Linked DNA regions of Homo sapiens. The protein of the gene in region 1 interacts with the protein of each later gene in a biochemical or structural test. Each region holds a gene or a part of one and is shown on either strand. Other genes may lie near its edges.

Region 1 (9,835 bases):
CTATGATTGCACCACTGTATCCCAACCTGGGTGACAGAGTGAGACCCTATCTCTAAAAATAAAAATTAAAAAAAAGAAGCATACCCAACATCCTGAGTGTCCTGCTACCGTACTGTACTTGCCATACCACACTGTTAACATCTGCTTATGCACACACAGCATGGCTTTCCCAGTAGGTGGTGTGAGAACGGGGAGAGGCAGAGAGCTGAGTTCAGTTGGAAGGCTCATTCAGATGGAAGCCCCCAAGGGGATCTTCTTAGGAGGGGGCGGCCAGGGGCTACTCAGACATTTGGAAGACAGGCAAAAAGCATCCCAGCAGGCAGCTGCCTGAGGCAGATCTAAGCAGACAGGTCATGCACAGTGGTGCATGCAGAATTGCATTTGTAAGATAAGCATCAATCAAATCTTTCCTCTATTTTGTGACAGTCACATAAAATGATAGAGCTATCTCCGTGACAAGCAATACAGATGAAGGCCCAGGGACCATCTGGGAAGTCGTCCCTGTCCCAGGCTGGGGGAAAGAAATGACTCCTCAAAGGGTGGCTGTGAAAAACAACCCTTTCAGTCTGATAGGCGGCAGAAATAAGCACCTAAGGAAGAAGCCAACTTCAGCCAGGAAAGAGCGGGGAGGAGGAGGAGAGAGCCCTAAAATCCAGCGAGAAGAGATCAGCTCAATAAATGGAGTGAAGAAGTGAATGAAGGAACTTACCTTTTGTTGCAAAGAACATGAGACTGAGTCCAAGAGACCTGGCATTTGAAAGATAAGCCCTGGCTCTTTCAGTGATCCTGTAAACTTAGGCAAATCACACCCCTGGCCTCAGTTTCCTTATCTATAAAAGGAGCTCATAAAATGGCTTCCTGGCAAAACTGTTGCAAGAATTAAAACCTGTATATGGGAGGGTGTTTTATTAACCCCTTATTTTGTTTGTTTGTTTGTCTCTGTGCTTCATGGTTTCTTCTAGCAAGTCATCCTGTGTAGTGGAAATAGTTTGGAGCTCCAAATCAAACAAACTAGATTCAGTTTCCAGGTCTATCATTTATTACCTATGAGACCTTGGCAAGAAATGTTACATGATTAAGACAGTTTCCTCATTCATAAAACAAGTGTTGTTGGGAAAATTATAGGTAATGTGGGTTATACATCTAGAATAGTACAGTAATTTCTTGGTATAGGCAAGGGATTGGCTCCAGGACCCCCATATATACCGAAATCCACGCCTACTCAAGAACCACAGTTGGCCCAGTGGAACCCACCTAGACTAAAAGTTGGTCCTCTGAATATACAGACTTCACCTCCCTTCACTACTGTATTTTCTTCTCTTTTTCTTCTTTTTTAAGAGATGGGTGTCACTCTGTTTCCCAGGATGGAGTACAGTGGCCTGATCATAACTCACTGTAGCTTCAGGTTCCTGGGCTCAAGCGATCCTCCTACCTCAGCCTCCCAAATAGCTGGGATTCCAGGTTTGAGCCACTGCGCTTGACCCACCATGGTATTTTTTTTAATCAGTGTTTGGTTGAAAAAAAAAATTCAGGTATAAGTGAACCTACACAGTTCAAACCCATGCTGTTCAAAGGTCAACTGTATATGCAATATAGCAGGGGCTCAATAATGTAATTCCCTGTCTTCCTACTTGGAGCATTTCAGTGAGAATAAGAAGGGAGTTGGGCAAATGTGGACCTCATCCTCCTTTAAGCCATACTCTACTTTTCTAATTCAATCTGTCTTTAGACCATTCCCCACTGCTGACCCATCACCACCTTCTCATTGTTTTCCCAGGTCTCCTAGAGCCACAGAAACAATATCACAATAGCTACCATTTATTGAGCACCTACTAAATGTCTAGCATTCTACAAGATGCTTTCAAAGCATTCCATCTTGCACCAACAGATGCTTGATATTCATTTCCTTCCTCCTCCAGATTGGAAAGAGATAGCCATGGGTGTGTCCACTGACAAAACAGGAACACCTGCAGAATAACATCAGTGGCCTCTCTCTTTGTACATTGTTTTACAGTTTACAAAGTTCTTTTCACCCACATTATCCTATTTGATTCTCACAACAATTCTTGGGAATGGATGAAGAAATTGAGGCAGGAGCACCAATTATTCATTCAATCAACATTCACCAAGCACCTACTATGCACCAGGACCTGTGCTATACTTTAGGGAGATGGAGAGAAACCCTAGGAGCTTCAAGCTTAGAGGGGAAATCTATTTAAATATTTTGTATAGGTTACTGATGCCTCCCTTCATGTCATAATCTTTAAGAAACTGAAGATCTATTTCTTGGACTGGAGATGCTTTTAGATTTTTGCCTTTTCCCATACGGTTTCCTCTGATAGGAACACACTTTCCTCCACTGCTAGCTAAATCCTTCATGACCAGGAAGGCTTCCCCAACCCACCCACCTCCCCCAAAATGCTTCTTCTCTGGCTCCCACAGGGCACCAGGGCTTTCCACTTCTATAGATAGGGCCTTTCACGGCTTCCATTGTCTTCCTCTGTTTATAGGCACAGAACAGGTGGACACCCACCTGTGCGCGCGCACACACACACACACACACACACACACACATCCTCTCCTTTTACTGTCTCCCACCCCTTTCCATCTGGATTCCAGGAAGCCGGGGGAAGAGGGCCCATCTTGTTTTGTGTGTGTGTGTGTGTGTGTGTGTGTGTGTGTGTGTGTGTGTGTGTGTTTTGAGGGCCCATCTTTCTCCCACCTCCTCCACATCTCTCTTAGCTTCCAAAGGCTGCTGCCCTGCCCTCCCCAAAGTTGCTTCCATGCTTGGACTACAGAACAGAGTTGGATGACTTTTTCTGTCCACGATTCTCTTATTTTCTGTGATCCCCGGTGCCCGTGTAACAAGGTCCAGTGCCTGGGTCCCCTCCTTGGACTCCTGAGTGGCCGAGACACCGCTAGTGCGTGGACACCACTCCAGCCCCCATTACCTTTCCACCCTTACACCACGACCCACACCTGGCCTCCTCCCCAGGCTGACCCAGCGCCCCACCACCCTATCTATACACTCCAAGTTCTCCCACGATTCCTCCACTTGCAGCCGCCAGACCCTACTCTATTCCAGAGCCTCCTCTCCACTCCTGACCAGAATGTAGGCCCCTGTGTCCATTTCCAAGGCCACTTCCCTGTGTCTCCACCGGCTCCCTGCCCCCTTCCTCTGCAGCAGGGTAGACCCAACCTGGCCTCTCACCCTTCCATTCTCCCAAGCTTCCCGCCCCCAAGCCCCACCCCTCGTCTTCCATCTACAGTTACCCCCACGCCGGTCCCCAGCCGGGCTCAACCTCCGACCCCAGCTATCCATACCCACATCCCCCATAAATGACCCTCTTTCGACCAGACACTGCCCTGCTGCCTTTCTCCTTCCCAGCTATCCATACCCACATCCCCACCCCCGACCCTCTCCCAACCAGACACTCCCCAGCTGCCCAGCGCCCCTTGCCCTCGGCACCTCAGTCCCCTCCAGCTCCAAACGACCCCCGCCCAGCCAGTCCCCTCCCCTCAGCTCCTCACCTCCATGCCTCCCCCCGCACCCCCGCTCTAGCTCCCCTCAGTCCGCTCCCTTCACCGCCCCCTTCGCTGCCCCTCGGCTGCCCGGTACCACCTTTCCGCACAGCCCCACTCCGCCCTCCTCGCAGCTCCCCCGCCCCCCACGCCCCCGTTTCCCCCAGCGATCCCTCACTGCCCTCCAGTTGCCCCCCATCTCTCCTCCCAGCCCCAGCGCCGTCTTTCTTGCTCCCCTCCCGCCCTTGGAGCTCCCCCGGCTGCCCCCAACGTCTGGGAGACCCCCTCGGCGCCCCCTCCCTAGGTGAGCCCCACCTCTGCCGCCGCGGAGCCCCCTCCCTCGCTCCTCCCCCGGCTTCCTTCCGCTGCCCCGCGCTCCTTCTCGGCGCCCGCTCTCGGTGCCCAGCGCCCCGCGCCGGGGATCGGTCCCTGATCCTCCGCGGGCGGGCTGCCGGGGCCGCGCCCCTTACCGCGGACTCCGAGTGCGGGACGACGGGTTCGCTCCCGGACGGTCGGCGGGACGGCAGGACCTGGCGTCGGGAGGGCGCGGAGGGGGCCGGGGCGGGGCGCTGCGGGATGGTCTGGTCCGGTCAGGTCCTCACAGTGGCGCCTGAGGGCTGAGGCTCCCGCTCCAGCACTGCTCCGCTCCGGCCGCATCCAGGCCCCGCCCAAGGGCGGAGTCTGTGTTCGCCCCGCCCCGGCCCTCAACTCCTAGCAGGTGTAATCCGAGGTGACTCAGGACCTCCAGGTCCCCCATGTCTGGGTGACTCTCGTGATTTATCTTAATTGTCATGCCTCGTTCCATTGACTGAACTTACTAGGGTAATTAGAGAGCTTTGATGATAATGTAGCTGATGATGGGTAGCAGTTTTGCCATTTCCAAACTGCTTTCTGGTCCGGTCCGTTCTATGGCTCCGTCTTCACAAAAGCCCAGAGAGGGAGGCTGACTACAAGCGGAAACCAAGCCAGAAACCTGGACGCTGTCCTCTACCCTATCTGTGTTTCCTTCACACCCCACATCCCACCGCCTTAACATATCCCTGCCCTTCCTCTGTGTCTCCATTGCCCTTGTTCTGACTCCAGCATCATCACTTCTTGCTTGGACTAATGCAACAGCTTCCTAATTCCTGCCTTCACTCTCCAATTCACCCTATAAAACCAGGACGTGGTGTCAGCATGGCCATTTCCACCCTTGTACAAAAATTCTTTCTCCTGTGGTCTCCAGTCATACCACCCTCCACCCCTCCTCATCACTGACACCCAATTGTTCCTTATGCATTAAAGATTGCAGCCCCTGGCCCATGGTCATCCTAACTAGCCCCTGTTCTGCCATACTCCTGGTGACTTCGGTAGCTGTGAGACTTCCTGGTCCCATTCATTCTGAGTCAGATACCAAAATCATTTTGACACAAGCCCGAGCAACCCTTTAAAAAATGTCACCATGTTACCATCAACCTTGTTTAAGAAAACTCTCGGCCAGGCACAGTGGCTGACGCCTGTAATCCCAGCACTTTGGAAGGCCAAAGTGGGCAGATCACTTGAGGTCAGGAGTTCGAGACCAACCTGGCCAACATGGTGAAACCCTGTCTCTACTAAAAATACAAAAATTAGCCGGGCATGGTGGTGCATGCCTGTAGTCCCAGCTACTTGGGAGGCTGAGGCAGAATTGCTTGCACCCAGGAGGCAGAGGTTGCAGTGAGCCGAGATCACTGCACTCCAGCAGTGCACTCCAGCCTGGGCAACAAAGCCAGACTCCATCAAAAACCAAACAAACAAACAAACAAAAACCTCTCAATGGTTTCCCATTACCAGGAGGCTGTCAACAGGAGTAGAAAAATGTTCTTGCCTGGCCTGGCCCTAGGAAGTCCCACTTCCACTAGAGGAGGCAGATAGAGGAGGCAATAAATACCCCACCCTCAAATCCTGATATGGACTTCCAGTCTTCCTGAGGTCACAGGAGCCAGCTGAAGGCTTGCTCTAGAATCATTGTCTTTCCCCACACTTCTCCCCCATCTCAGATCTTAGAGGTCTGAGTCAAATACCAAAACCATTTTCCCCCCAAGTTCCATTATGACCCTGTCTACAGTGTACATCTCCAGCCTAGGAACCACCCAAGCTGACAGCTCCTCTGCTTGTCTGGCCTCTGCCTCAGACGCTTACTCTTCTGAGCTTCTTGCCCAGCCCTTTCACTCACACTGCCCATCACACTGGCAGCTCTTTCCTCTGTGCCTTCTAGAATCCTGTTCTTTTGTCAACAAACTCTGCTATACCCTCTGCTTCTTCAGAGTACTCAGGTGACTTCTTTGCCTGAGCCTCCTCCAGGTACTGCCTCCTTTGCTGCCCTCTGCTAGAAGGCTTCTCATTTTTCCACTCCCCATATACTATAAAACTAGGATGTGGGGATGGCATGGCCATTTCCACCCTTGTGCAAAAATTCTTTCTTCTGTGCTCTCCAGCCATACCCCCCTCAACCCCTCCTCATCACTGACCCCCCAATTGCTCCTTATGCATTACAGATTGCAGCCCCTGGCTCATGGTCATCCTCACTAGCCCCTGTCCTGCCATCCTCCTGGTGACTTCAGTAGCTATGAGATTTCCTGGTCCCTCAGTCCTTGTCCTCCACATCACCTTGGCCACCAGCTCCCATGGTCACTCTTGAGCTCTTAATCACCCACTGCTGGTACCTCTGTAATAGCAAAATCAAACATGCTACGCTGAACTGCTCCCTCACTCTCTTTCTCTCACAAGGCCCTACTTCCCTCATTTCAAAATAGACGAGATGATAATGATTATTCTTTCTTCCTAGGAATAATGAGACAGCATATAGAGCCATCCTTTTAAAGTTGTGAGACAATATGAGAACAGATGGTATTGCTTTTATGTAGCCTCAGTTCTTCTGGTTGCTTTCTCCTTCTCCCTCCTCTGAAAGGCGGTATAGTAAATTAGAAAGGGCACACACAGGCTTGGGGCCAGGCAGACCTGGTCTTCAGTCCTTGCTTGCTGTGTGATCTTATGCCAATTACCTAATTTCTCTCGCACGCACACCCCTTCCTTATTTGTAGAAAGAGCAATAATAAGAGCTGCTTCTCAGAGTTGTTGGGAAGATCAAATGAGAACACAAGCTACTGGAGAGGACTTGATAGAGTGGTAGGCATACAGTAAGCATTCAACAAATAGGAAACACTGTGCTTCGTATAACAGAAAAAAAAAAGTGCTATTTTTAAACCACAACTGCCTTCCAGGAATGACAGATCCCAATGCACAGAAAGTCCTTTTGTCCTGCTTGGGGCCTCAATTGATGAGAGTGAATACGTAACTTTGGGAGAAGAAATTGCTCTCTATGTTTAAAAAGGGAGTAGGGGTAGGTGGGGCATGATGGCCCACGTCTGCAATCCCAGCACTTTGGGACCACCTGAGGCCAGGAGTTCGAGACCAGCCTGGCCAACATGGTAAAACTCTGTCTCCACTAAAAATACAAAAATTAGCCGGGCGTGGTGGTGGGCGCCTGTACTCCCACCTACTCGGGAGGCTGAGGCGGGAGAATCACTTGAACCTGGGAGGCGGAGGTTGCAGTGAGCCGAGATTGTGCTACTGCACTCCAGCATGGGCAACAGAGTGAGACTCCATCTAAACAAAATTAGGGGTAGCAGGAGGCAGAGGTTGCGATGAGCCGAGATTGCGCCGTTGCACTCCAGCCTGGGAAACAAGAGTGAAACTCCATCTCAAAAAAAAAAAAAAAAAAAAGGTGGGGGTGGGAGGGTTGGGGGAAGGCAAATTTGGAATTCACTTGACAAAATGGGAGGGCAAGTTAATAGAGATCGGAGGGGAAAAGGAAAAAGATGAGTAAGAAAATCAATGTAAGGATAGGTGCTACATAGGTAAAGAGTCAGAAGAAACTCTCCCATGGTAGTTGACAAGAGTGTTTCAGCAGTGGGATACCTAAAATGGGATAAGTTGTTTGTTACACTAGGACGTGACCATCCTATGTGACTCTCAAGACTTCAGGAAGGGCTATTACACCCAGGAACGCTTTTTGAGAGAGGGGAATTGTGAGAGTACATGAGTAGGGAGTTGAGCAATGTGCTTTGTTAGGTCTCAGTTGAAAAAGGAGACTGGAAGCAGAGGTAACTGTGAGACCACAAGCCCTTGTGGAACTTGCAAAAACTTGTGTAGGACTTTGCACTTACATGAGTTGGGAAATGTGAATATTGAGGTTCAAGCCCATTGCATTTGGATCTTGAAGAGGCAGAGAGGCAGCCAGACAGCGGCTCACACCTGTAATCCCAGCACTTTGGGAGGCCAAGGTCGGCAGATCACCTGAGGTGAGGAGTTCAAGACCAGCCTGGCCAACATTGTGAAACCCCATCTCTACTAAAAATACAAAAAAATTAGCCAGCATGGTGGCAGGTGACTGTAATCCCAGCTACTTGGGAGGCTGAGGCAGGAGAATCGCTTGAACCCGGGAGGCGGAGGTTGCAGTGAACCAAGATCGCACCACTGCACTCTTGCCTGGGTGACAGAGTCAGACTTGGTCTCAAATAAAAAAAAAAAAAAGCCGGGGGCGGTGGCTCATGCCTGTAATCCCAGCACTTTGGGAGGCCGAGGCGGGCGGATCACGAAGTCAGGAGATCAAGACCATCCTGGCTAACGTGGTGAAACCCTGTCTCTACTAAAAACACAAAAAATTAGCCGGGCGTCGTGGTGGGCGCCTTTAGTCCCAGGTACTCGGGAGGCTGAGGCAGGAGAATGGCGTGAACCCTGGAGGCGGAGCTTGCAGTGAGTTGAGATCGCGCCACTGCACTCCAGCCTCGGCGACAGAGCGAGACTCCATCTCAAAAAAAAAAAAAAAAAAAAAGGAGGCAGAGAGGCCACATCTGACATTTGGGTTGCATCATTTATGCCCTCATAAGCTACCTTCTTATTGACTAAGGTAACCACCTGAGGGAAGAACAACACAAATCAAATTATACTGGACTGTCTTCACTTCCAGATCCAAATGCCCAAGGAAGAATGGGAAGGAAAACAAAATTCTTTTTTTTTTTTTTTTGAGATAGAGTTTTGCTCTTGTTGCCCAGGCTGGAGTGCAATGGCGTGATCTTGGCTCACTGCAACCTACGCCTCCCGGGTTCAAATGATTTGGCTGCCTCAGCCTCCTGAGTTGCTGGGATTACAGGCATGTACCACCACGCCCAGCTAATTTTGTATTTTTAGTAGAGACGGGGTTTCTCCATGTTGGTCAGGCTGGTCTCAAACTCCTGACCTCAGGTGATCTGCCCCGCCTCAGCCTCCCAAAGTGCTGGAATTACAGGCATGAGCCACTGAACCTGGCCCCTGAATGAAGACAAAATTCTACCTTTTGTCTTGGCTCAGATTAGTTAACAATTATATTCATTGAATCTTTAAATTACACTAAGATTATTCACATCTTTTATCTCATTTAATCCTCAATATAATTATGCAAGTTATAGATTATCATCCCTTTTTTATAGACAAGGAAAGAGAATTGAGAAAGTTTAAGTGACTTGCCCAAGGTCATACAACTGGTAAGTGGCAGAGCCAGATAGCAGGTCTGTCTGACTCCAAGGACAGGGCGTTTTCTATTAGACTCTAAAATTATATTTTGATTGCCCAGTGAACATCATTGTGATTAAGAGTCCTGCAAGGGCAAGATGGCACCTGCCTGTAGTCCCAGCTACTCGGGAGGCTGAGGCAGGTGGATGATTTCAGCTCAGGAGTTCTGGGCTGTTATGTGTGTTATGCAGAACAGGTGTTCTCACTAAGTTCAGCATCAATATGGTGAATTCCCAGGAGTGTGGGGCTACCAGGTTGCCCAAGGAGGAGTGAACCAGCCAAGGTCAGAAACAGCAGGCCAGAACTTCTGTGCTGATCAGTAGTGGGATCATGCCTGTGAATAACCACTGTACTCCAGCTGGGGCAACATGGAGAGACCCTGTCTCTATATTTAAAAAATAAATAAATAGGCCAGGCACGGTAGCTCATGCCTGTAATCCCAGCACTTTGGGAGGCCGAGGCGGGCAGATCACCTGAGGTCAGGAGTTCGAGACCAGCCTGGCCAACATAGTGAAACCCCATCTCTACTAAAAATACAAAAAATTAGCTGGGCATGGTAGTGCACGCCTGTAGTCCCAGCTACTCGGGAGGCTGAAGCAAGAGAATCATTTGAACCTGGGAGGCAGAGATTGCAGTGAGCCAAGAGCATGCCACTGCATACCAGCCTGGGTGACAGAGAGAGACCCTGTCTCAAAAATAAATAAATAAATAAATAATAGAGTCCTACAACAAAATTTCCTTT
Region 2 (9,629 bases), on another chromosome or scaffold:
AGCATCCTCATTTGTAAAATTGGAATTGTAACAGAACCTATATCATAGGTTGTTACACATTCACATAGCTTGCCATATGGCTAAGTTTTATAAATTTTAGCTAAAAGGGAGAATGCAGGAGAGCCACAGTAGCTTAAGAACCCACTTTCATGGCTCTGGATGGTAATGGAAGTATGAGGGGTTTCTGGTCCTTCTTGCGCAGGAAGATGAGCTCCATAGACAATGTTATCTTTTATTTGTTTTCTTCTTTTAAGATGAAACGTGCTGGGACCACCGGGTCAGCCCGAGGCATGGCCCTTTATGAGGAAGAGGTGAGCACTGAGCAGGAATTGAAGCCACAGTCAGGGTCTGTACTGGGCTAGGCTAGCATCTTCCTCTTCTCTCCCTCCCTGGCCCCTTCCTCATCCATTCTCTTCCAACCACCCCCCTGTTGATTTGCCTTGAGAACAACCCTTTGCCCACAAGTGATGTCCTCTCCACACCTAAGCCTCTGAGGAGGGGGAAGCCCCTTTCTCTCATACCCAGGATGCCCACCAGGTTTTTGGCCTTGTTGTCAGAAGCTTTGTTGACAATTCTACTGACTAGGGCAATGGCACACTCCTTTCTTGGAGTAGATGCATTCTTTGAGCTGTGTGCATGGCAGAAACTGAACTAAGCCTTCATGCTGTCTGCCTGGGTCCCTCATATGACCCCAAGGACTGCCCTTTAAGAATACTGGTTGTGTTAAGGGAGTCTGAGATCAGAGGCAAGAATCTGTCTGGGGCCAGGGTCAAGGCTCAGTCCTGGGTTAGAGCCAAAGCCAATCAGTGACCCGGAGCAAGTTTAGTCTGTGCTCACAGTCAGAGTCTGTTTATGTCTAAGTCAAAGGGAAGCCATTGGTCCCCATGTGCCTGAGACTGGTCCTCAACTTTCACCTTTGGCTCCTCTTTGGAGGCTAAGCCATCTGCTGTCCCTGGTACTGGCTCCCTAGAGCTGGCCAAGCTTCGCCTGCCCTTCATAGGTTCTTCCCTAATGCTCGCCATTCACATTTCCTGGCCCCCTCCCCTCCAAGGCCCACACTGCCTTTTCCCCCAATGCAGCAGGTGGAGCGTGTTGGTGACATCGAGGAGCGTGGCAAGATCCTGGTCTCCCTCATGTACAGCACACAGCAGGGAGGCCTCATTGTGGGCATCATACGCTGCGTGCACCTGGCTGCCATGGACGCTAATGGCTACTCAGACCCATTCGTCAAGCTGTAAGTCAATGCCTTGGGGCTACAGGTGGGCCCTGAAGGAGTCCTGGAGCCTTGGAAAAGGAGAACCAGACAGTTTCACCAAGATCGTTGTACACTGAGACCCAGAGAGGGCAAGGAACCTGCCCAAGGTCACAGTGAAACAAATGCCTACAACTGGCAAGAATGTGGGTCTGGAGTCTCAGGCAGTCAAACTGGTGTGTCACTTGCCCACAGGCAAAGCTCTGTGGCTCTGTCCTCTTGAGGGCCTGCTGATGGCTCTGCAACTAAGCTAATTAGTTATAGTAGCCCCATTTGTACTCCCAGGAGTTGGCCGCACACCCCTCGGACCGCTCAGACCTCCACCACCAAAGAGGCCATCTGGCATTTTCCAGATTCATTCTGGAAATGCTCAGAAAAAAAACATGCCTTCAGTCTGGGGTCTGTTCCAGCAATCTCATCATGGAGAATAAAAGGGACTCTGTTATCTGTGTTAGTCCAGATCCTCTGAGAAGAAGATGCCAAAATAGGATTAAGCAGACAAGGGGTTTATCAGGGGAAATGCCCATTCCAGGAAGTCTGCAGGGAGTCAGGGGAGAAAGGGAGAGATGTTAGACTACAATGCAAGTCTGACCTGAGTGAGGGGACTAGATAGAGAAGTTGGAGGGAAGCATTCCAGATACAAGTTCAGTAAGGCCACCAGGGAGTCCTCAAGCCAAAACTGGCCATCAGACATGTCCTGTATCTCATAGGAGTGGGCCGACCTTAGCATCCCTGCCAGGCCCAGTCATTGGCTGGGAGCATGGCCTTGGCACAAATATGTCATGGACTTCCAAGCACTGCATCCAGGGCCTTGGTCAGTTACGCTTCCTGTAGCTGGAGGTCTGCCAGGTGCAATCTCATAGCCACCGCTGTGTCAGACATCAGGCCCTATTCTCATCTCTGCCAGCTGCTGGCTGTGGACTCTAAGCAAGTTATTTAGCTTCTCATTCAGTTTCTTCATTGGTAAAATGGAGACAAGAGTTCCACTTATCTCCAAGGTGGGCTTAAGGCTCAAATGAGATAGCACAAAGAAAGCAAACAGAATCGAGCCTGGTACAGAAATGTTTAGCACCTCAGTAGAATTCTGCTGGCCTTGGGGCAGCAACATGTATGTTTCTGTGGATGTGGATCTCCATGGAGCATGGAGTCTCCAGTATGCTCTAGCTATGTGACCTGGGGCTCATAGCTTAACATCTCTAGGCCTCAGTGTGCTCATCTGCAAAATGGACAGAGTAATACTGTAATACTGTATATTAGTTCAGGTCCTCCAAGAAGGAAACACCAAGAGAAGATACAGGTGTGCCTGTAGAGGAGATAAGGAGGAATCCAGAGGGGACCCATAGAGACCACAGACCTTGCTACAGGTATGACCCCTGTGGAGCAGAGAAGGAAGGAAGTTTGGGTAGAAACAATCTTAGGCTACAGTGCAGCTCCAAGGAAGCTGCACTATTTCATCCAAGGTGATGGAGAATCCTTGAGCACAGTCACCCATCAGAGGAGTCCTGCATTTCCCAGAAATGGGGCTGCCTAGTGTCCCTGCTAGCGTCAGTTATTGGCTAAGAACACTTGTGGGAAGCGTGGCTTCAGCAAGAACATCATGAATACAGAGCCCAGTAGCTTGTTCATCAGTTTTACCCCCTGCAACTGGAGAATGCAGGCTGAGAGGTACATTTTCAAGGGGTCTGGTACACAGTAAATGCTAATAAATACCTGCCATTATGGTTATAAATAACCACCATCACTGTCCTTACTCATGGCAGAGAGTATTTACTAATATCCCCTCCAGTTGGGAGACACTCCCCCCACCTCCACTGCCTCTGATAACAGAAAGCAATACTTCCCTTTAGTCCATGGCCAAAGAACAGATCCATGTGGGCTGTCTTTCACATTTCCTTTGAATGAAGATTTAGTTAACAAAGAACACACAGGTCAGGGACAAGTTTGGTTTCTAAGAGTAATTTGATTTTATTTCCTCGTATGACCCAAGAGAGGAAATGAGCTCAAGGGGTGCTGTCCAGCACTCCATTAGAGGTCAGCCATGTGCAGATTGGTTTTCTTAAATAATTCTCTCTACCACCCCCTCCCCCACCTACCCAATCCTTCCAGAAGAAGTAGAATTGCCGTGGTCACTACTGAAGCAGCTGACCTGCTGGGTGCAGTTATGGGAGAAAAAATGGGAGACCACTAAGCAGTTTCTGATCAAATAAAGATTTTTTAAAAGCCAGAACTTCCCATTATTTTTGCTTAGCTCTTTGGTAACTTCTAATTCCTCATTTTTGTCTCTTCTTAAAAATTATCCTCAAAACCACTTCTGTAGATGAGAATGAAATGTTCGCCCTCTTTACAGGTCAAGAAACAGAGGCACGGTAAAGTTACGCTCATGTTTAAAGTTGCTCCGCTGGTGACAACCTGAATCAGAATCCAAATGTCCCAGCCCTTAGGAGTGTTTAGCCCATTGTGTTTACTCACCCAGGAAATATTTTGTTTTGTTTGGTTTGTGTTTTGTTCTCTCTCTCTTTTTTAAGAGACAGGGTCTCGCTCTATTGCCCAGGCTGTAGTGCAGTGGTGTGATCATAGCTCACTGCAGCCTCGAACTCTGGGGCTCAAGAGATCCTTCCACCTCAGCTTCCTGAGTACCTGGGACTGAAGGCATACATCACTGTGCCCAGATAATTTTTGTTATTTTTTATAGAGACAGGCTCTCGCTATGTTGCCCAGGCCGGTCTGGAACTCCTGGGCTCAAGTGATCCTCCCGCTTTGGCCTCCTAAAGTGCAGAGATTACAGGCACGAGCCACCATACGCAGCCTCACCCAGAAAATATTGATTGAGTACCTACTATGTGCCAGACACTGGGCCTCACTGGAAAAGAGCCCTGTAGGCAGAAGAAACAGTTTGCTCAAAGGCCCTTGGGTGGAAAGGAGAAGTAAGGAGTGGGGTGAGGAGGATGGCATAAGGTTAGGTTGGGATGGAGCAGAAACCCAACACACACGGTCTTAAGGCCACATGAAGGATTTTGAACTCTCCCCTGAGTTTAAAAGGAACCCAGTACACAGTTTTGAGAAGTGGAGTGACAATAATCAGATTTGCATCTTCCCCTTTCTGTGCATACACCCAGCCTCTCTCTAGGGATTGGGGGCAGCCTAAGGTGGGATAGATGGTAAAATGCCAGGCACCACCAGCCATGGCCATCAATTTGACTTATGGGGAGAAAGTGAGCATGCTAAGAACACAGACTCTAGATGCAACATCTGGATTCAATCCCAGCTGTGTGAGCTAGGGCACACTTCTGCCTCTCTGGATCTCAGTTTCTGTTTCTGTAAACTGAGTGGTTGTGGTTCTACTGCCTAGGGTCATGTGGGGATTAAATATGCCTAAGTTGCTCAGTCAAGTGCCTGGTACCAAGCAGATGCTCTAATGCATATTGGTCATTATCAATGTTGATCCCTTTCTGATTTATTCATCAATTCACCCTGATAAAGAAGGGGCCTTTGGGGTCAAGAGGCTGTTCTTATTCATTAAACGTCATCCATAATAGCATGTTGTGTCGCCTCCCAGCTGGCTGAAACCGGACATGGGAAAGAAGGCCAAACACAAGACTCAAATTAAAAAGAAAACCTTGAATCCCGAATTCAATGAGGTAAGGCTGCCCTATTCTTTTTCATGCTCTGGGATATTTGCTGTGTGTTAGAGAGGCACAAATAGCCACATAGCCATTAAATATGTGGCCACATAGCCATTAAATGCAGCCATTTGAAATGATGATGTAGAAAAATATTTGAAAAATATTTGAGAACATGCTAAGTTGGTTTTTGCCCAAAGTTGTAAATGAAAAAGGAAGTGACAATACTGTATGTTCAGCATTACTTAGTTAACAAAAAATTTATACATCACTGTGAACACATGTGGGGGAATGTTGACATGGTTATTCTTGGGTAGTTGGATTACCGGGAATTGGGGGTGGGGGTTCTTCTTTGTTTTAGCAATGAACATAAAATGAATTTTGTAATTAGGCAGAGAAGCTATTTTTTAAAAATCAGATTGTCTGGGAACATATGTACTCAGTCCACTTCAACTGTATTTATTTATTTATTTATTTTTGAGACAGAGTCTCACTCTGTGGCCTAGGCTGGAGTGCAGTGGCGTGATCTTGGCTCACTGCAACCTCCACCTCCCTGGTTCAAGCAATTCTCCTGCCTCAGCTTCCCGAATAGCTGCAATTACAGGTGCCCACCACCATGCCTGGCTAATTTTTGTATTTTTAGTAGAGATGGGGTTTCACCATGTTGGTCAGGCTGGTCTCGAACTCCTGAGCTCAAATGAGCCACCATCTCAGCCTCCCAAAGTGCTGGAATTACAGGTGTGAGCCACCGGGCCCGGCCACTTCAACTACTTTTATTCCTAAGCAATAAAAAAGGGGATGCCCCTTCATAAACTACCAGAGGGGAAGGACTATGTTCATGGCCATTTACCTACAAGGAAACTTGAGCTCTATTAGAAAAACCTCACCAGCCTTCCCAATTTCAAGCAGAGAATTCACTGAAAAGAGGATGACAGTGCTTTGTTACACAGAGTGTTTGTTGGAAGGGGATCACGGGACCTGGGGCAGAGGATCGGCACGGGAAGACCTCCTTGCTCCCAGAATGCCAGCTCAAGGACCTCTCCTTGGCCCATAACCCCTAGGACTCGGCCTCTTACCTCCCAATGCTGTGGGTTCAGAGGGCTCTTACCCACATGTCTTCCTCTGTTGTATTCAGGAGTTTTTCTATGACATCAAACACAGTGACCTGGCAAAGAAGTCACTGGACATTTCAGTCTGGGACTATGACATCGGCAAGTCCAATGATTACATCGGTGAGTGTTCCTAACTCCAGAGAAAACGCCCTCTTCTGTCCTCCCCAGAACAGGAGAGCCTTATCCAGGGCTACAGAGAGTTGAGGTCATTGCTATTCTTTTGGCAACCTCATTGTTCAAATGCTAAATTGAGACCCATGATCTTGACCTTGGTCCAATTTGGGGATGTCTTTACATGAAAAGCCTTACAAAACTTGATTATTTGTTGAACAAATCACCTCCAGTGGGGTAATTAAATCACAGGAGAGATTTGCGTTCTCTGCAGAAAGCAGGGTGCAAAAGAATTCTTAATTTATTTGCATGTCCAGGATAAAATTTTTAATTTTTTAGTTCCTGTTTGAATCATGAGGAAGAAAATCAATTAAAGATGAAGCAGGGGGGTGGGGACTCCAGGCAAGGGACAGAGCCTGAGCTAAGGGGTAAAGACAGGATTGAGCAGGATGATGAACCTTTTTGGAAATAGACAATGAGTTCCCAGAAGTAGTGGGAGATAAGTTTCAGTGAGTAGAATGGTGATTTGTAGAAAGCCTTTAAAAATAGACAGTGAAATTATGACTCAGTGGAACAGTAGGGAGCCATTGCAGGTTCTTGAGGCAGAGAAGGACCGTAATAATAATAACAACAACAGCAGCAACGTTATAACAACTCTCTATAGAGTATGGATCCCAGGTTGCTGGGGGTCACTGCTTGGTGCAGTTTTTTCCCCAACTACACATTTGGGTCTAGAACGACCTCTATTCTGACCACCTGCTCCTATCTTCCCATTTATCCTCCAGGAGGCTGCCAGCTGGGGATCTCTGCCAAGGGAGAGCGCTTAAAACACTGGTACGAGTGTCTGAAAAATAAAGACAAGAAGATAGAGCGCTGGCACCAGCTACAGAATGAGAACCACGTGTCAAGTGATTAGGCTAGTGCCCAGGTCCCCATCTCCATGTCCCGGGTCCCCCCCAGCCTGCTCTAGCTGCCCACCGCACCCTGATCTCTCTTCTCTATGCCTACCTCCCCCCATACCCTGCTGATCTCCCTGAGCCTGCCTTTGAGCCCCCGTCACGTTGGGCACTGCTGCCAAAGACTCCCTCCTCCCTGATGCTGGGATGTGGGCTCTGAATACAGCCCCTCTCTCATCCCTGGGATGGAGCAATGGGGATGGGGTTGGGGAGACGTTTACAAAGAGGTTGATCATTTAATAACCTCTCAGTTTGGGTAAATTACAAAGGTTCTTCATCATTTAGGACTGTTTTTAGACCCTCCTAGCCTTGAACACACACATGTACACACACACACACACACACACACACACACCCTTTCATTCCCTGTGTTGTGTCTCTGTATATCCCCAGTTGTCAGCAGACCCGGACAATGCTGTGAGAGAAGCATTGGGGCACAAATAGAGCCTCCGGGCTCCCACTGCCCCCTGAGATGTACACCCTGATTGCCAGGAAAACAGACTGCTGTGTTCAGTAACACACCCTCCCTGCTCCAAGTGCACCAGGATGCAAATGCACAGAATTCACCAGGGGCTTGGACGCTCTCCTCTTTCCGAATGTCACCTGTGTGCTTCCTAGCAAAACAAAAACAAACGACAACAACAAAAAACCCTTCCTCTGTCACCTTTTCTCCTCCTCCCTCTTCTTTCCCTTCCATGATAGTAGATTCTCTCTTTCTCAGCCTCTCCCCTCTCCTTTCTCTCCCTGCCTTTCTTCCCTTTGCCTTTCTCTCTCTCTAAAGCAGTAACACCGCAAAAACAACAGCAAAAAAAGTGTATGTTAACCTAGCCTCACCCCCTTGCTCTCACCAGCCTGACCAGGAAACTGAGAAACTGGCCCAAACCTGAGATTCCACTTGGGCCCACGCTTCTTAACTGACCCACTCCTCCCGTTGGCAGAACCAGACATTCCCAGGGCTTGGGCCAATGGCTGGCACTGCCCTGAGTGCATGGCAGCATCCCTCAAGCTGTGTAGATGCCCCATAGAGGACTCTCTCATCCGTGGGCTCCCCGGGTGGGCACGGAGGCATTTAGAAGACCAGGGCCATGGGTCTGAGGAAGCCTCAGCCAAAGCCTCCAGCCTTTCTCCTTTCTCCGCTCTTAGGTAAATGAACAAGCTACCCTCCTCCCCAATGCCCTTGACTCTGTTTCATTGACTCTTTTGCATCCCATCTCTCACTCAGAACCCCCTCCAGTCTCTCTGTCTCTCTTTGTCTGTCTCTCTGTCTCCTGCACTCTCGTTACTAAGCTTCCTGGGAGAATCAAATAATATCATGGCTATGGAACAGTAGAGAGAGACAGGCCTGATGCCAAAGGCTTTGGGCTCATCATCAATCTTTCACTTTCTTCCTATAAAAAAAATTATTTTATAAAGGAGGAAAAGGCAATGTGGGCAAACATTACAAATTTGAGGTTGAAGTCAGGCAATCTTCAATGCCCTGTGAGAAAGGTTCGATTTTCCCAATTTTGATGAAGTCTTCCCTCATGAAAATCACTCCCAGTCATCCCAAACCCCTGACATTCTCTACAGAAGCATCAGACAGATACTCAAACTCTCACTTTCCCCAAATCACATCTCTTAACTTTTCAACGCCCTCCACCCTCAGCTCCCTGCACAATTCATGGGAGGACTCATTTCTTGCCTTGAATAACCATTTTCTAAACATCGAGCTCTTCACCTTCCCCAAGGTGGCCAACAGCTTCCTGGCTGCCATCTTTCCTTTTGACCTTATCTTTCCCCATTAGTCCCTGGTGGCACCTACTCTCAGCCCACCTCCCTCACCACAGTTTCCCCTTAGGAGACAGCATGCTGGCTGTGTCGCCCAAGCCTGATGCTGGTGTAGGCGCTGGAATCAGCATGCAGCAAGCTCACAGTGCCCCTAGTCTGGGTGCCCGCTGTCCCCGACAAATGTAACCACCTCCCTGCCTAGAATACACACACGTCCTCCGGTGCATGCACAACCACCCAGCATCTTTCTTTGTGATGATGTAGCCAAAAATAAAGTAGGAGCATCCAAGAAAACGAGTGGTCTGCAGTTTTCCTTTCTGGTTTCTGCGAAGTCCTCCTCCCCACCAGGACATATGCTATTCTGATAGTCAGTACTTAATGAGCATCTACTATGTTCCAGGCACTGGCGACAGATGTGTTCTCTGCCCACGAGGAGTTTGCTTTATGGTGGATTTTATCTTGGGCAGGTGGGCCTAAGGTAACTTGGCTGACTCCAAACCCTTCTAGAAGAATACTTTTTGCTGGTGCCTACCAAACAGGAGGGCAACATCCTCATCCTCCTCCTGCTGCTACAAGACCTGGGAAACGTCCCAGGTGGTTGCAGAATCAGAAATTGCCAAAGCTAAAAGAGAACATACAATTGAGCCACAACCTAGTTCAATCAACTCACTTTTTAGACAGATGAAGAAACCAAGGTCCAGAGAAGAAAATGCCATGTCCAGTGTTAAACAAAGGCAATACCAGGAAAGGAGTTCGATCGTTGGACTCCCAGAATCCAGTGTTCTTCACACACTGATCGATGAGCATGGAC
Region 3 (9,995 bases), about 150 Mb from region 1:
GGGTTTCTTGTGCTACACGGGGAGCAGATGGACTTTGAGCCTTACTGACAATATCACTTAGGAATAATATAAGATCGCTTTTGGCTTTAGTGACATTTCTTGACCTTTGCTTCAAAGGGCTGGGATAGGCTACACGAGTTCAGGACTGGCTCGCTGGTTATTGCAATGCGTACAGAAGTTGCATCTTAATCCTCTACCATAAACATGGCCCTTTGGTGAGTCAGAGAACAGCTTCCTGGAAGGGTAAGACAGTGGTAGTTTCTGACACACCTGTCATTTTGATCCTCCTGGAACGATTTGCTGTCATTCCAGAAGGTATGCATCCCCATCACAGAAGAAAGAAAAAAACATTTCTGATGCCCCCTCTTCTGGCTGGATAGAAGCCCAAGACTCTGACCCAGGTCAGGGCCTGGGAACTGAGACTGGAGTACTGCAGTTAGTGGGGCTGGAGGGAACACCAAAGGAGGCCTGAAGTCTGAGTCCCAGGAAAAGGTAGGCTTGGGAAGCTCATAGCATCCACAGCATTATGTTTAAGGCCTGGGTGGAAGCAAAGGTTCACATCAGGCAGGATGGCAGACTGGGGAGAACTCTCTTGCAGAGAGAACTCTCCACACACAGAAGCCCTGTGGAAGAGTCTAGGGGTGAGATGGGGGGCTAGCTGCCAACAGACAGCTTGGGCAGCCCTTAGAGGATATGACATGGTTCAGCACCAGAACCTAGGAATGATCTTAACAGACAAGGGGGTCCCAGGGTGCCTAAAATTGGGACCAAAGCAAAAGGCAGCCAGATGCAGTGGCTCACATCTGTGATCCCAGCACTCTGGGAGGCAGAGGTGGGAGGATCAGTTGAGCCCAGGAATTCAACACCTGCATAGGCAACATGGCGAAATTCTGTCTCTACAAAAAAATACAAAAAGTTAGCCAGTGTGGTGGTGGACGCCTGTAGTCCAAGCTACTCTGGAGGCTGAGGTGGAAGGATCACTTGAAACCAGGAGGTTGAGGCTGCAGTGAGCCATGATTGCACCACTGCACTCCAGCCTGGGCAACAGAGTGCCCTGTCTTAAAAAAAAAAAAGGAAAAGAAAAAGAAAAGAAAAGCTCTGAAGAGGCTGTCTGGGAGACAGAAGGTATTGGGTGCAAATACAGTCTGAGCCTCGTTGGTGGCAATCACAGTCTTTAATCATTAATTGTCATATTTCTGATTTGTTAGCAAGTGCCAGCTTGTAGGCTGGTTGAAGTACAGAACTCAGAGGAAAAAAGAAATTAAATTTTAGCTTTCTGGAGAGCAGCCCCTCTCTGGCACCATCAAACACTTCTTTGTTTCCCTTCAACTTGGAACTCTTCAAACATCAGGGGTTGTGAGGGTTTGGCCATTCTTTTATCTTGGGTCCATGTGAGTGACAGAAATGGTGCGGCCTGGGAAAGATCTCCCTCCTTTACATTTTCTCTTCTCCCTCCTCCTCCTTATTCTAAAACTGTGCCTCCAACAGAGGGGCAGGGGCTCTTGTAGAGAGATCCCTGGCCCAGGACAGGAGATGCCAAATCTAATTTATCTCACTGAGGGCCTTTGAGAAAAACGCTTCAGGGCCAGGCTCAGTGGCTCATGCCTATATAATCCCAGTACTTTGAGAAGCTGAGGCGGCAGATCACTTGAGGCCAGGAGTTCGAGACCAGTCTCGTCAACATGGCGAAACCCTGTCTCTACAAAAAAAAAAAAAAAAAAAAAAAATTAGCCAGACATGGTGGCCCACATCTGTAGTCCCAGCTACTTGAGAGGCTGAGGCATGAGAATAGCTTGAACCTGGAAGGCAGAGGTTTCAGTGAGCCGAGATTGTGTCACTGCATTCCAGTCTGGGTGACACAGTGAGACTTTGTCTCAAAAAAAAGAAAAGAAAAAAAGAGGCCGGACGCGGTGGCTCACGCCTGTAATCCCAGCACTTTGGGAGGCAGAGGCAGGCGGATCACGAGGTCAGGAGATCGAGACCATCCTGGCTAACACGGTGAAACCCTGTCTCTACTAAAAATACAAAAAATTAGCCAGGCGTGCTGGCAGGCGCCTGTAGTCCCAGCTACTTGGGAGGGTGAGGCAGGAGAATGGTGTCAACCTGGGAGGCGGAGGTTGCAGTGAGCCGAGATTGCGCCACTGCACTCCAGCCTGGGCGACAGTGAGAGACTCCGTCTCAAAAAAAAAAAAGAAAAAGAAAAACGCTTCACTCTTCCAAACCTCAATTTTCTTATGTGTGAAATGGTAAGAATGTGGGTTTATAATTACCTGTGTGTATGCTCATCATACATGACCCCTAAGGCCTTAGGACTCGAGACATTTTATGACCTCTCCCAATAGGGGCAGAGGTGAGCACCCCTGGTGAAAAGTTAAGACTCAGTGAGTATAAATACGCCAAGAAGAGCTGTGGCTTCTTTCACTGGTGTCCTCAGAAAGGCTGTGAGCAGTGTTGGTGGCATACCTGTCACAGCATCTAGCAAAGCACCTGAATTCTAGTATGAATTCAAATACATCTTTTGATGGAAGGAAAGAAGAAGAGGGGAAGGACGGGAGGGAGGGATGGAGTGGAGGGAAAAATTCTGTTGACATCCCATGATAAGGGTGCAGAGGGGCGCTGCACGTCTCTCCTTTCTGCAATCAGCTCTCCCACCCTGGTCCCTCTTCCTTCAAGGGACCCATGAGGACCTCTATTCTTCTCCGTACCTGAGGTTCTCTCAACAGAAAGAAGTTGCAAGTGGGACCTCCTCATGCCACCCTCATCCCCAATAGGAACAATTAGGCCAGGCTTTGATGTCACTGAGGAGGGGACCAGCACGCCTCTGAGGACAGTAGGAAAAACCTAGGCAGGTGTTAGAGCAGGGAGTGGGGTCCCCAGGAGCTGAGGGCCCCAGGATCGACATGATTCTGAAGGTGATTGTCATGGGTGCAGGGAGCAGGCGGCGACACCGTCTAGGCTTCCTGGGGGCCGTCCTGGGCCTCGGCGGCCACGGTGCTGGACTGGAGCAGGAAGTCTTTGTAGGCCATCTCGGCTTCCTCCTTGGATGACTAAGGGGCAAGAGGAGAGGCATCAGTGTTGGGGGCACTGGCTCAGTGGGTGGAGTCAGGGGAGGGGAGGTGCTTAATGTCCTGAATTCGTGATCTTGGTCCAAGCAACACAAGCCTTTGGGGCCCACTGTTCTCATCCCAGCCCCCATGCTCACCAAGAAGGACGCATTTTGAGAAATGGAAAGTTGCAGCCTCTAAAAATATCTTCTTCTGTCTCACTACCTCCTTCTGACACACGGAGTGGAACCGCCTCTGTTGCCCGGGCCTGTCCCCGGAAGCTGCCCACACAGTCCACGGGCAAGGTGGCCTAGGCTGGGGTCAACCACGGTGGTGTATGTTTTTCTTTCTCCACCAGCCCAGACAGGTAGCTTTTTGGCACCACAAAGTTAAAGGGGAAGGCTGTCCCAGGAATAACTCGTTCTAACTTTGCTAAATGCCAGAGATGTTTCAAGAAAAAGTAGATATGATAAAAACAACAACAACAACAACAAAAACTCTCACCTCGGGATTAAAGGCATGAGATGTTATTTTTCTTGGTCCCCTGAGTCCTAGGGCAGATTGAGGGGATGGTATATGGCACCCAAGGCAGGAGTTGCCTCTGGTGGGGCTTCAAGAGAAGTGAGCAGGGGCTTCTAGCCTCAAACTGCCCACCGCAAGCAAATGTCTCCTAGGCCCAGGCAAAAAGCTGGTCCTGAGCAAACCCTCAAGGGAGGATGTGTGGCCTGAGGTCCTTGGGTCCCCCAACCCAGGAAGAGCATCCATTTAATCACCAGCATTTGGCATTGTAGCTTCCCATCTTTTATGCACCTGCTTTCCTCATCTCCTGGCCTGCCTCTCTCCTGCAGTTTTACAGCCTAATCATATAGCTCACCTCCTTCCTGGGCCTTATCCACATCAGCATCCCACAACCAGTAAGATATAGTTCTTCCTCAAAAAGTCCTGAGGACTCCTGAGGACTATTTATATCATCCTCCCTATTCTGGGATCGGCCCCCATGTTGAGGTAGTTCTTTCTGAAGTCTAACTGCATCCCCTCATGCTGCATTTCTTTGTCATGTAGTGGGGCTTCCTTCTTCCTCCTCACCCTTTTTGCCTTCTTGGGTTCTTTGGTCTCTGTGGTGCTCTCAGTGGTGGCAACAAACTCTGTGTGAAGAAAGAGGGTAGGTTAGCCCTTACTAGCCTCCTTTTCCCAACCCAGATGTGAGACCAATTCTTACTCTCCCCAGGGGCTGAGCATTCCCTTGAGTGAGGGTCATACCTTCTTTTCCTCCGAGGGATGTCTCCTGAGTGATCGAAGAGGCTCCCATGTTGTCATTGGCTCCAAATTCCCTGGAGTTCTCGAAGTCTGACATGCTAATGTCTGTCCTGTAGCTTCTGATTGAAACTCGGTCTGTCCGGGAGGAAGAGGAGTTGGTGTAAGGACAGGGGCTGGGACCTAGAAGGCCAGGCTGGGCTGCTTCTCTCTGGGCGGATCCACTGTAGCCCTGCAGGACAGCTGAGGTGGTGCAGCTCTGACTATGACCCAGGGGGATGGAAATGATCCGAGTCTCCTCCCCAGTCCCTTTTCCTGGGTAATCAGGACTTGGTAATCCCTGATCTTTGTCACTCTGGGACCTTTCAATGCACAGCATCTCCTTTGGTCCTCACATCAGCCCCGTGAGGTCCTGATTATCATCCTTGACTTGAGCCATGAGGAAACTGAGGCATGGCATAAGGATGGCTCAATGTCACACAGCTCATTAGTTATCCAATTAGTCCAAGCCCAGGGTCTCCTGAAACCCAATCTCCTCTTCCTGGCAGCCCTGTCTCTGAACCTAGATCCTGGGTAATTGGAGATGATTTTCCAGTGTTAGTATTTGGACAGCAGCTCTGAATTTCAGTTTCGAGTATGTGTGGGTTTATCTTTCCCCATCCTGCTTTCTCGGGATCCTTTGTTTTAGCTCATGAAAAAGAAGAGACACAGCAGCTTCCTCTATGGGTGGATGATTCAGGACTGAGGGCTCGGGTTGGAGGTGGGAGGCAGGGAGTATCCCAGGGACTCACCGACGTTCTTCCTGTGCCGGGCTCTGGCCACCCCCACAGCCACGGCTCCCACTGCCAGCACCAGGCCCAGGGGCACCAGGGTGGAGACCAGCGCTCTGGAGCTTCCACCTTGTTCCTCAGAGCTGGAAGAAGGCTTAAGTTAGTTCATCCCTGGAAGGGAGATCTGGGGGCCCGACGATGTGCTGGCAAGGTTGGCTTAGTCCTTTTTCCTCCCAGGTTTATCCACCCCACCCTGCTGATGCAGCTCCCTAGCTCTGTTCTTCTAAGAAGCCTTCCCAGACTGGCAAAGGCACGCACTGGGCCTTGTTGCATCCTAGGCCTGGAAGATTGAACTGAATTGTAAACACCTCCCCAGCCATGGGAGAAGGGCAGAGGGTACCATAGGACCCTCCCACATATAAGCAGAGGTAGTAAGGGCTGCCCCAGTGCTCAAGAGACAGATGGGCTTTCCTCCTTGGACCTGGTGGCCCAGCCTCAGGTGCTCGGCTCTGGGGTGTTCTCCGAGTGGGGAGCCTTGAATCCTTCCTTACCTGCCGGAATCCACAGATGCTCTGCTCCCATCGGCTTGATCTCTTGTATCTGCCACCGCCTTTTCCTCTGCAAAAAGCCTGGGATCCTGAATGGCTTTGTTCTCAATCTCCCGAAAACCAGAGTCTAGCACCTTCTCATCAGGAGCAGCGTCTGCCTTCGCTAGGCTGACATCGCGGGACCCTGCAGCAGGGAAGAGTGGGCCTGGGTTGTGATTTTTCTCTATGCTCTTACTCCTCGAGGTGAAGGAGTCTGGGGGAGACTTCATGAGGAATCACAGGGTCAGGGTTCGATCTCAAGGCTGTTGGGGTAGGACCCAGGATGACATTAGAAACAGCTGTGATGGCCTTCTTCAGCTGTCACAGATGATCTCTGCCCCATTACTACCAAAAGTATAGTGGGGACCTTCAAGGCTTCGTGTCATAGACCAGCTGTGCATAAAGGCTGACCCATCACTTATGCCCGGGAGATTTTCAAGGCTCTGAGACGCTGCCCCAGGCTTCCTGACTGCCCAGCTGGGTATGATAGTGCTGCCCCCTGGAGGTAGCCTGGCGATGGGCCCCTCAGTGAGTCCCATCCGCAGGGTCCAGACCCAATAGGATTTCTTGAGGGACTACAAATACCCTTATTAGGGCTAAAACATTTCATGTGAAATTTTAAAAGGGGACTTGAAATGCAAATTTACTAGATGTTTCCTAATTTTCCTGATCAGACCTTGTAAATGAAGGTATCTGGCCCTCTTTCGAGGGCGAGCTTTGGCAGGGGGAAGGGGGATGAACATATTGCATATGACAGTGATGTATGCATATTATTCTTCTATACAGAGAAGAATATTTCCAGATATAGAAGAGACTTCAATCTGGGTTGAAGTGGCAACTATGGGACTTGTCTTTTTTTTTTTTTTGAAATGGAATCTAGCTCTGTTGCCTAGGCTAGAGTGTGGTGGCACGATCTCAGTTCACTGCAACCCCTGCCTCTTGGGTTCAAGCAATTCTCATGCCTCAGCCACCCAAATAGCTGGGATTACACCACCATGCCCAGCTAATTTTTGTATTTTTAGTAGAGACGAGTTTTCTCCATGTCAGCCAGGCTGGTGTTGAACTCCTGGCCTCAAGTGATCTGCCTACCTCGGCCTCCCAAAGTGCTGGGATTACAGGTGTGAGCCACCACATTCAGCTGGGAGTTGTCTTAATGCCGAGGTTAAATAGCAAACCCACTATTTTTACTTAGTTGGTATGTTTATTTGAGATGTCCCTTTTGAAGGGCTCAACGAGGCTATATAGGACCTAAATGTCCCCTCCCTTCCCACTCTCCACTTTCAGCCTCTTACAGCCAAACATAGGGGCCAGCACTGATTGAGAAGCTCTCAGGCAGGGGCCTTCAGGAAGTCCTGCCTCTGGGTCTGAGGGGTGCAGGCCCTGTCCTTGGAGACTCACCCGCTGCCTTCCTCTCTTCAACTGCCACATAGACGGCTGCAGTCTCTCCATAGAAGTGGCCCTGCTTCACTCCACACCAGTACCAGCCCTCATCAGCCCTGGTCACCAGGTTCAGGGTCAGGGAGACAAGCCGGCTGTTCTCGTCACAGTTCACGAAGGCCTTGCTGGGGCCTTCGTCTTGGCTGGGCAGGGCCTGGCAGCCCGTGTTATTCCACTTGCACCAGTATTTCTCGTACGAGGAGAATTTGCATGGAAAGTGACAGGGGACCTTGAGAGTCTCTCCCAGCACAGCCGTGACATTCCCTGGTACCTTGAGGTTTGGTTCTCCTGGAGGAGGGAGGGAGGTAGAAATAAACACAGAAGTTGGTACTTGGAGATGCTGCAGGGAAGTGACTCTGGTGGGAATCTTTGTCCACATGTCATATACATATATATATATATTTTTGTTTTTGTTTTTGAGACAAGGTCTCTCTCTGTCACCCAGGCTGGAGGGTAGTGGTGCGATCATAGCTCACTGCAGCCTCCATCTCCTGGGCTCAAGCAATCTTCCTGTCTTGGCCTCCCAAGGTGCTGAGATTACAGGCATGCACCACCATGTTCAGTCTACATATCCTCTTTGGATAGCATTAGAAATAAGTATGTTATTCTGACTACAGAAGAAATGTAATTGTGTGCCTAGGTAATAATTATTATTGATGAGCACCATGATCAATCCAGAGTCTACCATAGACCATAGATCTTCACACATGGACTTCAGTTTGCTTTCCTCACTCTTCCTTCTCTTCTAGACTCAATACAAAGAGGTATCTGCAATCCTTGACTTCAGCTGATGCCTGCACACTGCGAAAGAAGCCCATGTTCTTGGTAGTAGGAGGTACCATGTATGGTAATTCAGAGTGTAAGGTGCGTGTTATAGGCATGAAAATGTGACCTCTGGATAGGTGGGCTCCCTCCTGAGGTCTGGCCCATCAGGGTGGAGGCGGGTGAAAAAGGAGGAAGAGTGGTTGGGGATGCTGCTGCTGGCTGGAGAGGTTTTAGAGCTTTCTCCCTCCCTGTCAACTCCTACCTTCGATAATCTTGATCTCCACGGTGGTCCTCCAGAGAGTATCGCCGTTGGTCAGACACCAGTAGAAGCCGGCGTCCCGGCTGGTGAGCTGGTTGAGGATGACAGTGAAGGTGCCGTTGCCTGGCTCCTCCAGCAGGGAGAGGCGGCCCTCGTACTGGGCCTTAACCCACCCCTCGCTGTCCACCAGCAGGGGGCAGCGGCCATTCTGGGCCCCTTCCCAGAGACACCAGTACTTGATGCTTTTGCTTTCCTTACGGTTGTAGGGGCAGAGCACGGCCACAGAGCCTCCTGCCACCCCCTTCACCACAGTGGGGCTGCGGGGAATCGTGGACTCTGGAAGCACAGACAGAGATGGGATGGGAGGATGGCCACGCAGGAAGAGCCTTGCGTGGCCTGAGAAGCCTTCTTCCCGGGGTCTCAGCCAGGATGGGGAGTGAAGTTTACACGCATCACCTTACCCTCTTCAGAAAATGAAAAGGAGCTTTCCTAATGTCACAGAGCCTGCAGCTGGAGCCATCAGGGCCAGACTCCAAGGGCTTGGAGTCTCCCCATCAGCCTGCACATGTTGTTCTTTTCCCCCATCTTATTCTGAGCAGAGAATGGAAGGAGTTGAAGGAGAGGATATCAGCTCTTCTTTGGCTTCTTACAAAGTCTCCCTCTGTGTAGGTTTTTGTCTATTTAGTACACTAACAAGTGTATTCCACAAAAGTGGCCCAATGGATTATGCCCAAATCAAGAAAATATATTTAGGATGGTATGATGTAAACTATAAAGTATGTAGCAAAGGTGAGCTTAATTGTTGGGGCCCCAAGGGGCATCTCAAAGACGATAGCCATTCTCCAGGCAGCTAAAGCTGAGATCCAGAGAGAAGCAGGTGACCAAAGATGCAGGGGATTCTGGTGAAAACCCAGAGCTGGATGTGGACATGGCATGCAGAGAATATAAGCCCCTTTAAAAAAAAAAAGTCACAAGCACAGATACTTGGAACTGCAAGTACTGGTTTGCTGCTTCTCACGAGGGCAACTCTATGCAGGGTGCTCTGGGATGAGAAGGAGCTGGGATTTAATTCTTTCACCATGCTGATGGCTCACTGGAGTAGGGCTGAGTGGGCCAGATGGTGCTGAAATTCACAAATAACCCTACGAAATGTGACAGTGAAACATTTAGAGGCTGGGGCACTCCTGGGAACGCATTGAGACCAAGATAAGCCAATCCTTTTTCCATCTGAATGTGAGGGATGAGGCACCCATCTTGTTCAGGGGCCAGGGGAGGGGACAGAGGACCCCTGCAGAGCCTGCCACAGCCCTGAAACACAGTCTATAAGTCCTGCCTCAATCAAGAGCTTTACTCACCTCTTGCTTGTTAAGCAGGGACAGCCATCAAAATGACTTTGATAACAGAAGAGTAATTAGGAGCTGCCATCAGGCAGAGGTTGCTTTTTCTTGCTGTCCTGTGCAGCAGCCCACGCAGCCTCCAGTTCGGGGCTGGTCATTGAGTGGATGCTGTTGGCTGATTGATGACTATTGATGAATACACTCAGAGGGAGCTGAGCTTGGCTCTCACCTGCGAGACTGCCCCACCTACTCCCCCTCCCTCTCTAGGGTCTTACCCTCATTGACGAAGAGTTGCCAGGCCTGGATAGGCGAGCCTTCCTGCAGCTGACCATCCGAATGGGCTCCACACAGGTAGCGCCCTGCATCCTCCTTCCTCAGGCCTGTGATCACCACACTGAATGAGCCATCCTTGTCCTGGGGGTTGAGCAGGATCCTGCCCTCAAAGGCTGGGGCCCTCTTCCCCAGGGTGTTGACGACCACGTCACAGTTTTCCCCACTGCTCTGTCGGCACAGAAATTTGGCCACGTTTGCCACCTCAGGGC

The links.
Region 2: the proteins of RAB3B (region 1) and RPH3A form a complex in vitro, tested with the Homo sapiens proteins (one study listed by BioGRID).
Region 3: the proteins of RAB3B (region 1) and PIGR form a complex in vitro, tested with the Homo sapiens proteins (one study listed by BioGRID).

The regions. Positions count from the first base shown.
Region 1 is NC_000001.11:51,986,560-51,996,394, forward strand, and holds the start of RAB3B (ras-related protein Rab-3B), read right to left. Parts: upstream 4,142-9,835; 5' UTR 3,993-4,141; intron 1-3,992. UniProt on the Homo sapiens protein: The small GTPases Rab are key regulators of intracellular membrane trafficking, from the formation of transport vesicles to their fusion with membranes.
Region 2 is NC_000012.12:112,889,770-112,899,398, forward strand, and holds the end of RPH3A (rabphilin-3A), read left to right. Parts: intron 1-254; coding exon 255-311; intron 312-1,079; coding exon 1,080-1,234; intron 1,235-2,509; exon of another isoform or gene 2,510-2,616; intron 2,617-4,808; coding exon 4,809-4,890; intron 4,891-6,007; coding exon 6,008-6,104; intron 6,105-6,880; coding exon 6,881-7,011; 3' UTR 7,012-9,112; downstream 9,113-9,629. UniProt on the Homo sapiens protein: Plays an essential role in docking and fusion steps of regulated exocytosis.
Region 3 is NC_000001.11:206,927,367-206,937,361, forward strand, and holds the end of PIGR (polymeric immunoglobulin receptor precursor), read right to left. Parts: coding exon 9,729-9,995; intron 8,453-9,728; coding exon 8,120-8,452; intron 7,381-8,119; coding exon 7,054-7,380; intron 5,801-7,053; coding exon 5,620-5,800; intron 5,212-5,619; coding exon 5,090-5,211; intron 4,437-5,089; coding exon 4,305-4,436; intron 4,190-4,304; coding exon 4,131-4,189; intron 3,048-4,130; coding exon 2,952-3,047; 3' UTR 1,156-2,951; downstream 1-1,155.